Regions from separate parts of the Homo sapiens genome. Here region 2 is reported to be linked to region 1. Evidence: microRNA targets listed by miRTarBase, many of them from high-throughput screens and not tested one by one. Region 1 holds a microRNA gene; the other region holds the end of a gene's coding sequence.

Evidence for each region. Region 1 holds the annotated microRNA hsa-miR-412-5p (UGGUCGACCAGUUGGAAAGUAAU, at 2,907-2,929, shown strand). A microRNA usually pairs through its seed, bases 2 to 8, with sites in the 3' UTR of a target mRNA and lowers its output. Matches are read on the target gene's strand: a 7mer-m8 pairs with bases 2 to 8, a 7mer-A1 pairs with bases 2 to 7 and ends in A, and an 8mer does both.
Region 2: the mRNA of TM9SF3 is a reported target of hsa-miR-412-5p. Seed matches in the 3' UTR shown: 7mer-m8 at 4,482-4,488.

The regions. Positions count from the first base shown.
Region 1 is chr14:101,062,559-101,067,936 of GRCh38, forward strand. MIR412 (microRNA 412) reads left to right here and starts at 2,889; the gene lies at 2,889-2,979. It overlaps MIR541 (microRNA 541), which reads left to right and starts at 1,937; the gene lies at 1,937-2,020. MIR409 (microRNA 409) reads left to right here and starts at 2,742; the gene lies at 2,742-2,820. MIR369 (microRNA 369) reads left to right here and starts at 3,040; the gene lies at 3,040-3,109. It also overlaps MIR410 and MIR656.
Region 2 is chr10:96,517,302-96,522,679 of GRCh38, forward strand. TM9SF3 (transmembrane 9 superfamily member 3) reads right to left here. Exons shown (of 15, transcript NM_020123.4): 15 at 809-5,029. The coding sequence ends at 4,962. Among named protein-coding and RNA genes, the nearest start is that of TLL2, 6.1 kb to the left of the region's middle.

The DNA of each region.
Region 1 (5,378 bases):
CTTTCTCTTTCTATCCCCCAACCAAACATTGTTCCCAATTTTCTCCTGGGTTATGAAACAAATAGAGGCTATCAGTATCTCATCCCATTTGTATTAAATAATACTGATAAAAATAATCAACACAAAATAAAACTAAAAACAGCTGAAACGGCACAGTGCTAAATGTGTTCAGTTGACTACAAATTGGCAGAGGAATCCAATTTTCTTGACAACATTTCAGCTGTGACATTTGACCTGGGGAAATAGCAAGCTGCCGACGTGGCAGCCATGGAAGGAAATTCACGGTGGCGGCGGTGATAAACAGTGATATTTGATGTAGACAAGAACACATTGAGGAATCAAATCTTCATGCAGATTTTTAAATGGAAAAAATTGATCCTAATGAAAATGATTTGGGGAAAATAACAAGGGAAATAAGAGAAATGAAAACAGCTCAACAGCGCGGTCAGGAAAGCTAAACAGGGAATTGGATTAGTATAATGGCATTGGCTCTGAAAAACACGTTTCTATGAATATCAGTGTTGGTACAATTCTTGTGAAGGTGGTTACATTTGTGCGTGTTTACAGTGGAGTTGGTGGGGTCAGTAGGAACCTAGGGTCAAAAAATGGGATACAGTCTCCCCCTTTATGCAGTTGATCTTTTCTTGCTGCCCCAAACCTTCCCGAGAGCTTCCCGGAAAGGTGTGCTGACTTCAGGCGTGACACACTGGTAAGGCGTCCTCCCGGGGATCTGGGTGCATGTTGTCCCCAGAGCATTCATACGTAAGTGACAGGCATCACCTGGTCTCCCTCCATCCCCACGGAGGGTTCTGGGTGAGACGCTGACTCCGGAGGGAAGCAGAAGTTCTACGGTCAGTGGGGTCTGGTCTTTCAGGACAGTTGCTTCTGTGAACTCAGAAAATCTGAGACAGCTCTTAGTTAATTTAGAAAGTTTATTTTGACAAGGTTGAGGATACACCCGTAACACAGCTTCAGGAAGTACTGTGGTCAAGGCACAGCTTGGCTTTATACATTTTAGGGAGACATGAGACATCATTCAGCACATGTAAGAAGTACATTGGTTTTGTCTGCAAAGGTGGGACAACTTGAAGCGAAGGCAGGAAGGAGGGAGCTTCCAGGTCACAGACAGGTGATACACAAATGATTACATTCTTTCGCGTTTCTCATGAGCCTTTCCAAAGGAGGCAAATCAGATACGCATCTGTCTCAGTGAGCAGAGGGATGACTTTGAATGGAATGAGAGGCAGGTTTATCCTGAGCAGCTTCCAGCTTGAGTTTTCCTTAGTGATTTTAGGGGCCCGAGATAACTTTCCTTTCACACTTCCAAGGCTATTGATGAACACACAGGCATCCAGGAACATTCTGGGGTTCAGTCCTTCCTCAGACTCTGCTGTTGATACCTTACATGGTTCCATGCTGGCCCCAAGGACGTGCCCTTCGTTGGTGCCGAATGTCATTTGGTCATAGAGGCTGAAAGTCATTCTGGAGTTGATGTTTCCAAGGTCAAAAACCTTGCTGGGGCTGTGGAAAGAGCTCGTTGTTTGCTGGCCTGCTTTGTTGGTGACCAGCATTGCACATGGCTTTCTTTTCAGATCAAACCCTACCTGGAGAATTTCCAGAAGCAACAGCACCCTCAGGAGGCGGCCTGCAGCCGGAGCCCTCTCCAGGGCAGGTGCCTGAGGGCCGCCCATGGGACAGGCCCGATTGTACCCACGGTGCATGTCATCTGTTCCACTCCTGCTGACTCCGGTGCGTTCCGGGACCACCTTGGGAGGTGATGCCTGCCCCAGGAAGGAGGCTCTGATGCAGGTCAGTGCCCATGGCTCCTGAAGGGAAGTCGTCTGTGACATCTTTTCTTTCTTTACAGCAGGCCTCGCATGGCTGGCCTCTTGCTCCACTTGTAGCAAGGCGCAGAGGGCTCTCTGAGCTCATGCCAACGTCAGGGAAAGGATTCTGCTGTCGGTCCCACTCCAAAGTTCACAGAATGGGTGGTGGGCACAGAATCTGGACTCTGCTTGTGGCATCCATCGTCTGGCCCGATGCTTGCTGGCTGCCCGCTCCAGGAGGCACCTTCTGGGTGTTCTCTGAGTCTGGGGAAGGTTGGGTTCTGAGGTCAGGGCTGCCCTGACCCTTGTGAAGAGAAGACATCTGTGACTCACCTGCTTTCTTCTGCTGCATTTATCCCCCCAGTCCCTTATTTTGAATGTCTCACTTGCTTTATGAGGCTAATCAGATGGTCAGCCAGCTGTTGATAACTGTGAAGTTACTCTTTGAGGGATCCTGGGGTGATGCCTCTGTGGGCTGGAGATGGTGCTGGTGAGACCGCAGGTCTGGGGTCAGCGTTGTGCCCCGTTGAGCTCCCGCCAAAGGAATCCTCTGCTGGGAGGGAGGCTCTGTGCTTGTGCAGGGGTCCCTACAGGGTCACCCCCTCTCAGGGTCTGGGAATGAAAAGCGGGTGCGAGCAGGGTTTCATTTTCATCTTTAGCAAGGTGCCCAAGGAAGGTTGCCGTCTTTTCAGTATAAGATCCTACCTGGGTCTTGCACTCAACTTCTGGGAAGAGTCTCTAGATTCATTCTGGAAGGGGTTGGAATCGTTGGACTTGGTGATTGGGAACGTCCTTGGAGAGTGTGAGGCTCTGGGCTCTGAATGCCCAGACCTTGTGCTGCCCTTGGGGGAGGGTCTTCTGCAAGCACAGCCGCCTGCAAGCATTCACCTTAGTCCGAGCATCTGAGCCTCTCCATGGTACTCGGGGAGAGGTTACCCGAGCAACTTTGCATCTGGACGACGAATGTTGCTCGGTGAACCCCTTTTCGGTATCAAATTCCACCAGGGAGGCCGTCTTGGAGGCTGGGGCACCTCGGGGAAGGACGCCGGCATCAGCACCATTCTGGGGTACGGGGATGGATGGTCGACCAGTTGGAAAGTAATTGTTTCTAATGTACTTCACCTGGTCCACTAGCCGTCCGTATCCGCTGCAGCCTGTGGGGCCTGCGGGCCGGGGAGCCGATCGCGCTTCAGCTCAGCGCCTTTCCTGGTACTTGAAGGGAGATCGACCGTGTTATATTCGCTTTATTGACTTCGAATAATACATGGTTGATCTTTTCTCAGTATCAAATCTCACCTTGGAGGACCCGTTGGAGATGAAGCCCTTTTGAGGGTAGGAGCAGGACGGGTGCTTTGGAGTCGCTGCCTCAGTGGGGCCTGGTCACCGAGAGTGGGCCGGGCAGGGGTCTCTTTCCTGTCTCTGTGTCTTCTCACCTTTGATGTCCCATCCGTCCTCAGGACTGCTTCCCGGGGGCAGCGCTGGCACCACGGGACGCGGCAGCCACGTTCTTGAGCCGATGGCACTCTGGGTACCTGAGAAGAGGTTGTCTGTGATGAGTTCGCTTTTATTAATGACGAATATAACACAGATGGCCTGTTTTCAGTACCGCTACCGCCCGGTGGTGTGCGGGCGCCACGCCTGAGGCGGGACTTTCCAGGGTACGTGAATGCATGGGCTGGTGTGACATTTGTCATCCTTTCCCCTGACCCCCGCCATTGAATCATTTTGGGAGAGCTTTCGGGGGGCCATGTGGACTTTGGGGAAGATGCTAGGGTTGTGCACTGTGGTGGGGGGCGGTCATGAAGCTGATGAGCAATGGTGACGGGGCTCAGTCTGTTTTTCATGGCCAGTGTCATCGAGGCAGAGGACACGGGGGAGCTAGTCCCGCTGGAAGGCATCCTGCTGGAAGGCCACCCACCCCTCGCCAGGATGTTGGGGGCGGCTGCATGCATTCCCTGCACCTGGGCTGCCTTCTGCTCATCTCAGTGCTGTGAGACCCTGGGTGGGAGCTGGTGCCTTGGGTGGCCGTGTGCGTGTGCTGCTCCTTGTGGTGCCTGAGGAGAGGTGGCCTGTGTTGCATTCACAGAAATCATGACACACAAGACACGAGCGGCCTCTCTTCAGTATCAGATCCCACCTGCATGATTCCTGCACCTGCTGATGTCGGGGAGGTCCGGTTGCGCGCCCTGTGGGCCCCCAGAGGCATGGCTGGTGGCCGAGCACGCGCTTGACTTCCACCTGCAGCCCTGTGCTGGCCTCCATCCTGGAGGCGGGTGGGTGGCAGGGCCCTTCCCTGTGGAAGAAGCCTCCTCCCTGGAGTCAGTGCTGCTCAGTGGTACCTGAAATAGGTTGCCTGTGAGGTGTTCACTTTCTATATGATGAATATTATACAGTCAACCTCTTTCCGATATCGAATCCCACCTTGGATGCCTTCCTCTTTGCTGTCAACTCCAGGCAGCAGCTGGCTCTGCGCTGGTTGACCCTGTGGACTTTGTGTAGGACCTGTGTCACTTGGCCTGTTAATTTTCCAGCTCCACTCTGTTCTGGGGGGCTTTGGAAGTGTGACAGAATGGCATCCCCAATTCCAGTGTCAGCGGGAGCACCCGCCATGCCCTTGCTTCCGGTTGGCACATCCCCCAGGCTGGGCTGGCTCTCAGCTACCCGATGCTTATGTCATATTTGCACCCCTGGCCTGCCCAGACTACAGGAAGATGACCAGAGGCCTGTTTGCAGCTGACCTGGAGACTTAGTGACTCCAGAACATGCTGCCCATGCCCAGGGTCCAGGGCTGAAGGCAAGGAGCACCTCAGGAGTGACCCCAAAGAATGAGCTAAGGCTGTCCTTTATCACTCATTGTTGATCAGTGAGCTCCTGGGCTCGGGAGATCTTCCTGAGCTGGGCTCCCGTCATCCCCTAGTTGAGACGTCGCTGCCTTGGAAGTCACAGCCTGTGCCTGCCCTCCCCCTTGTCCTCCTCCTCGGGACCGCTCCTCTCCATGCCTAGCATGGGAGTGGGGATCCCTGGCACCATCCCTCTGGGCTGCCTGCTCCCACTCTCCCTCAGCACCCCTCTTCCCCAGCCCCTGGGCCACAGCCCTGCTGGAGAGGCCGCCCCACAGGCTAGGTCCCTCCAGCCTGTGGCACTTGGGTCTCCCTCCAGTGCCCCTCCCTCTGCCAGGGAGAGCATTTCCAAGTGCAGAGTCCAGCTGTTTAACTCCGCTGCCCAGGGCACCTCTGCAGGCCCCTTCCCTTGGGCTTGGTACCAAAATGATCCGAGGACCCCCCAGGCCCTCAGAGTGGCAGCCCCCCTCTTCTTTTGGAGCCACAGCCTATCCCCCACGTGTTTTCATCCTTCATTCTGGCCTTGCACATGCCCCTCCTTCCGGAGCTGGGTCCTGGGCCGCCCTGCTCTGCCCTCGGCTGCCTCCTGTCCAGGCTCTGGCCCTTCCTTCCTTAAAGGCCCACATCCTTTGCATTTTCCTTTCCCAGGGGTTCACAATTCCCAAGGGGATGGAATGGCTCTTGTTCAGCAAGGTCATCCCTGATAACCCTA
Region 2 (5,378 bases), not on the chromosome of region 1:
TAAAAATAATCTCTTCCATTCGTATAGAACACTAATTTTCAATGTGACTTCTACATATATTACCTGCCTCCCAGGCTAGAGAGGGTGACACCCCCATTTTACAGTTACAATAGTCAAGACAACAGGGCCCTGAATCTTGATGACTTCTGGGCTAAACATAAGAGCACCTTTAGCTGTGGTTTCTTATCCATAAAACACAGCTATCTACTCTACCAGCTTCACAGGATGGTTGTGAAGGAACAAGTGAAACTGCTTTGAAAAAGTAGTAAATGCTAAACAAATGCAAAGAATCATCAATCAGAGGATGGCAGGCAAATAGATGGTAAAGTCTGAGTGTAAGAGTCAGAATAGGTATACAAAAAAGTCAAAAGAATGGCAATAAAAGAAAAATCATTCTTAAGAAAGACCAATCTTATTCACTGGACCATTCTCTCAACTTTACTGTATATTACAGTTCACTTTTGAAATACAAATTTAAACCTTAAATTTTAAATACATCATTCCAGGGGTTAGCGGACTATGGCCTGTGGGCCATTTTTGTGAAGTTATACTGGAACATAGCCATGCTCATTAGTTTATGTAGTCTACTATGGCTGCTTTGGTGCTACAACGATAGTTTCAACAGAGACTGCATAGCCCTCAAAGCTGAAAGTATTTACTATCTAGACCTTCACAGAAAAAGTCTGCAGACCCCTGCTTTAATTGTGGAAAACTATTACTAAGTTATTCATTTGCCTGTCAATAATGGGTTATCCCTTATGCTTGGTTCATGTTTCAAAAAGGAAAGAAATAAGGAATCCAAAGGAAGTACATTTAACTTTTTATTACTTTTTAAAAATCCAAATTCAGATAAATTAACACACTAGGTTAGAACCTCAATTGTATTTGATACATTATATACTGGATTTCTATTACTAAAAAGCCAGTTGGAATATGGCCTATACGAACCAAAGAGTGTATACAAAATGGAAGTGGTCATCAGGCAATAATTGTTTCCTTGGAACTCTGCACCGACTGTCCATGCTCTGTGGGGACTTACACATTCAAGTTTGACAGTTGAAAAACCAACTGGAGCTGCTTTTCCAAGAATGTTCTGTTGTCCTTCAAATAGAATTCCATGTTATTTCTTTCTTGCCTTAAGCTCTTATATCTTTCAAATGACCTAAGCTGATGAACTGGAGTAAACACAAACTGCTGCAGTTATCAATTAGCAAGCCTAGTTCACCAATACTTCAAAATAAACAGACTTCACAAGTTTATTTCCATTCCTAACAGTGGAATAATAACTTAATTTTGTTTACTTTTGTCTTTGTAGATTTCTGTCTGCAGCTCCAGTAAGAATGCCAAATCAGATGGCTTTTAGGAAATGCTCATAGGAGAGAACTAGAGTTATTCCTCACACTGAATTTAAGTCTTACCAGATTTCTGCAGGTTCATATGTTAACGTTCTGATCTAGCCTACCTGTAAGTCTAGTTTATTTCTGTACACACTTCCAAATACTCTTCATAAATTTTCACTTCTGACTGAAATATAACACCTTGATTGATAGTTTCATAACTATAGAATTTTAGTGAAGATATAAAACATTAATGAATACTTGTGTTTTAATACATCACTACTCCTATTTATTACATGTTCCAATAAACCAATAGAATGAAGCACTAAGACACGGTGAAATCTAAACTTAAAACCCAGATGGAACTGCCATATAGATTACAAATGGGTCTCCCCACCACAGAATTCATATACAAAAGCCCTTCGGTATGTAGCTTTTCCTGAACAAATACATTAATACACTTTTTGTTTTTTACATTTGTAAAAATTCAAGGTTTTAATAACATTTCTTTGCAAGACATTTGGTATAAGGTGGTTAATAAATATTAGGAAACAAACACTGTACCAAAATGGATATGACTTGTGAATAAACCCTAAATAAAGTGGCTTTTGGAAGAACTGGATTTTGCAGCAACCAACTTTATAAAGAGGTCCATCCACTCTCAATGGAAAACACCCAAGCATACCATTCACTAGGTTCGGATATCACCATAATATAATGAATTCTAAGAGTATGGGGTTTGATTTATGGGCAACCCCAGTACAATCTAGGAGCCCAACATGATGAAAAATACTAAAAGAATGCTTCACCATCCCTCAGGCCATTACATTTCCACCTTATCCTACTCTTGTATTAGGATATATGTATACAAATGTCAACTACTAATGTAGTTAAATTTCAGGAGAAGCATGCTTAAAGATACACAAGGAATGTTTAGCCTTAGTTTTTGATAGTATTATCCAAAGTGTGAGTTGAAAGAAATTAAGCAAATAATGTTAACAAACGAAAGACAGATACACAGCATTAGTGGGGGTATAAAAACCTCACCTTTCAATTAACTTGAATAATGTTCTATTTTCTATTCTACAACTGAGCGCTAGGGAGCTAAACTATTTGTGAATTACATCTTCTTTAAGAAGACACACACACACGCACACACATACATACACTTATTCAACCCCTCTATGCAGCCAAAAACCAATACAAGTCCTTTTCTAAAAGACTTTAAAGGTGATTAATATTCATTTAATGCTCTTAATGTATTTGGAAATCAGAAAATTATTTTTCACCACAGATTCCAAAGAACTTCAAATAGAGCTCAATTTAGTAGAAAGAATTGGTGTACCTGAAAGCATTTAACCCACACATTTTCAATAAACCCTACATCTTACCTGCAAGATTCATATCATGAGAAACAAATTTCATTTTATTAAGACAAAACCTTACTGTCCAATTTATACTCCCATCAGACAGACTATGTATTGGTATGTTAAAAGTACTTTTGAATAAAAGTGGTGAGAAAGAAACCAAAAAAGTACTTTATATATAGTTAAAAGGTTACATAATATAGGCAACTAAATATTAACTTTTAGTTTCTTTTTTATAAGATCTTAAAGGCAAGTAAGAAGGAAGAGAAAATGGAAGTACCAATAAATTATATTTAATATACCATTTTGGCTTCAGAAGAGGATTTACCTACAGCTTCTGATCAAATTTGTTGGATCATATCAATCATACTTAAGTGGTAAGAAATCATACTTTTCACCTTTTAAAGGACTTACATGTCACAATATAGGATGTAGAGTCCATCAATAGATAGGTACATATTTTGTAATGAAAACATCTTGTGTAACTATTAATTGCATGATTTTCATATTAAGGTTTAAATACAGGTGTTTTGAGTCTTTCTAAAAATAACAATATAAAGTATTGTTTTAGGTGGTCATTTGCATAGCAAACTATTAAACTAGAAACTCAGTGGTTCTAGGAAAACTTCATATTATGAATAGTTCCAGAAAAATGTATTCAAATCACTTCTCTTACAAAACTGTAACCTTTATTTGTTGATCCAACAGTACGTTAACCACTTTTACCCCATCCCCACTTTACACGGTACACCAACCTGAACAGATTTTGTGCCACAATTTCATTCAAAGGGTTTGTCATTCACTTTATGATTGTGCTGGATAATCTAGATGTAAGCAAGTCTGGAGATTTTAAAATACGGGTCCCCTGTATGAGAGTAGCATAGTTTATAGCATACTTTTAAAAATGGCATTCGGTAATTTTGCCTTCTGGACAGAAAGATATCTTCAAATTGCAAACACATCTATTTCCACAAAACAATTTGGTCAGGAAATTTTATTTGAACATTCTAAAGCAATAATGCTTTAGATGTTACTTAAGTGTCCCAGACAGGATTAACAAAATTAAGTGTCTCTAAATTACAAATTTGGCTCCTGTAGGAGTCTCAGAAAATAAACAGAAGAAAACAACCCCCCTCCCAAAAGAAGTATGACACACACATTTTGAAGAAACCCCAATGTTTCATGCAATGGTAGGCAAGATGTAAAAGCCCACCCAAATCACACATTTCTACACCAATCATCATAAGAAAAAAGTACTCTGTAGTCGATCTGTACATCCAAATGCATTTGGGAATCTACACCTACGTTACATTATTTAATGTTATATACATTTATTACCCACCCCCCTTGTTTTTAATAATTTCTTATGTAAAACCTTCATTCAAACCCAAAAGATTTAAGACTAACTTGGGGGGAAAAAAGATAATCACTTTAGACATTCAGTTAAAATGTAGTTTATCTAAATCTCAAAATGTTTAATAAAAACAAGTATCTTCTCCATTTAACACTTTGCTTTCTAACTGTACAGTAAATTGCATTGTAGAGAGTACACTTCTGTCTTCAAACTGTATCTTCTTTGGATGGAATTAAGATGTAACTGTATAGTTTTAAGATAAATAAATGGGAAGTTGGTCCAACTAAGATGACAGCAGATATATTACATGCAGGATTTAATATTTTCTAATTCTCTCTTTTAAAAAAAAGGATGCTGTTGGATTGGGAAAAAAAAAAAGTCAAAAAAGAACCCAGATTCAATATATAAAAATGTCCCACAATAGGTCGACAATGGCAGTAAAAATAAGAGGAAAAAAGTAATCTTTCTGGAACATCATTTTTCAATAACATAGAAACACTAAGTGCCAGGAAGATTCCTATTCATGTAATTTTAGCATCCAAGTTTCCCTCTATTTATTTTATTGGAACAAATGCTTTAAATAAACTATTTGTCCTCTTCACTGAAGAGAGCTGGTCTATTTCATCTTTAATGAGCTAGTTTTTGGGAAGATTAGCCATGTACTGTAGTAATGCCTACTGCATAAAATCCAAGCATTTGCTGTGAACAGTTGGAGAAAGCAGTCAGGAAGAACCTAGGATCAATGGAAATAGATGTTACTTTAAGCCACCGACGAAAGAGAGACCCACAAAGTACCCAGTGTGTTAAAGCCCAAATCTCTTCTTGCGTTTGTTTGTTTTTGCTGTGCAAGTTCCACCCCTATGAAAAAGAAATTGATCCAAAGTTCCAGGTTTTCTTGGGTCTCTAGTCAATTTTCACATTAGTATAGATTTTTCGGACAAAGGCACTTGTTCCCATGTAACCAATCGCTCCTGCAAAGATAAAATAAGATGTTTTGAAACAAATACATACAGAGCAGTATCCATCATTTAAAAACACTAAATACTCTATGCTCTGGAAAGTTATTCTTTTTTAAAGAAAATATCCTTATGTTAGTATTCTCTCTGAACTTACTAAAACTGTATCATTTGCTTTGCAAATCACCTGATACCATAATACACTGAGTCTGACCATCATACGCCAAGTCTAATCAAGTAGCAATTATTTCTTGTATAATCAGTAACTACAGAATTAAAATACATCTCTTATAAAGCAAGAATAATTTGATAATGGCAAAAGGTTGTTAAATCAAAAAACATGCCTTCTTTGATTTGAAGATAT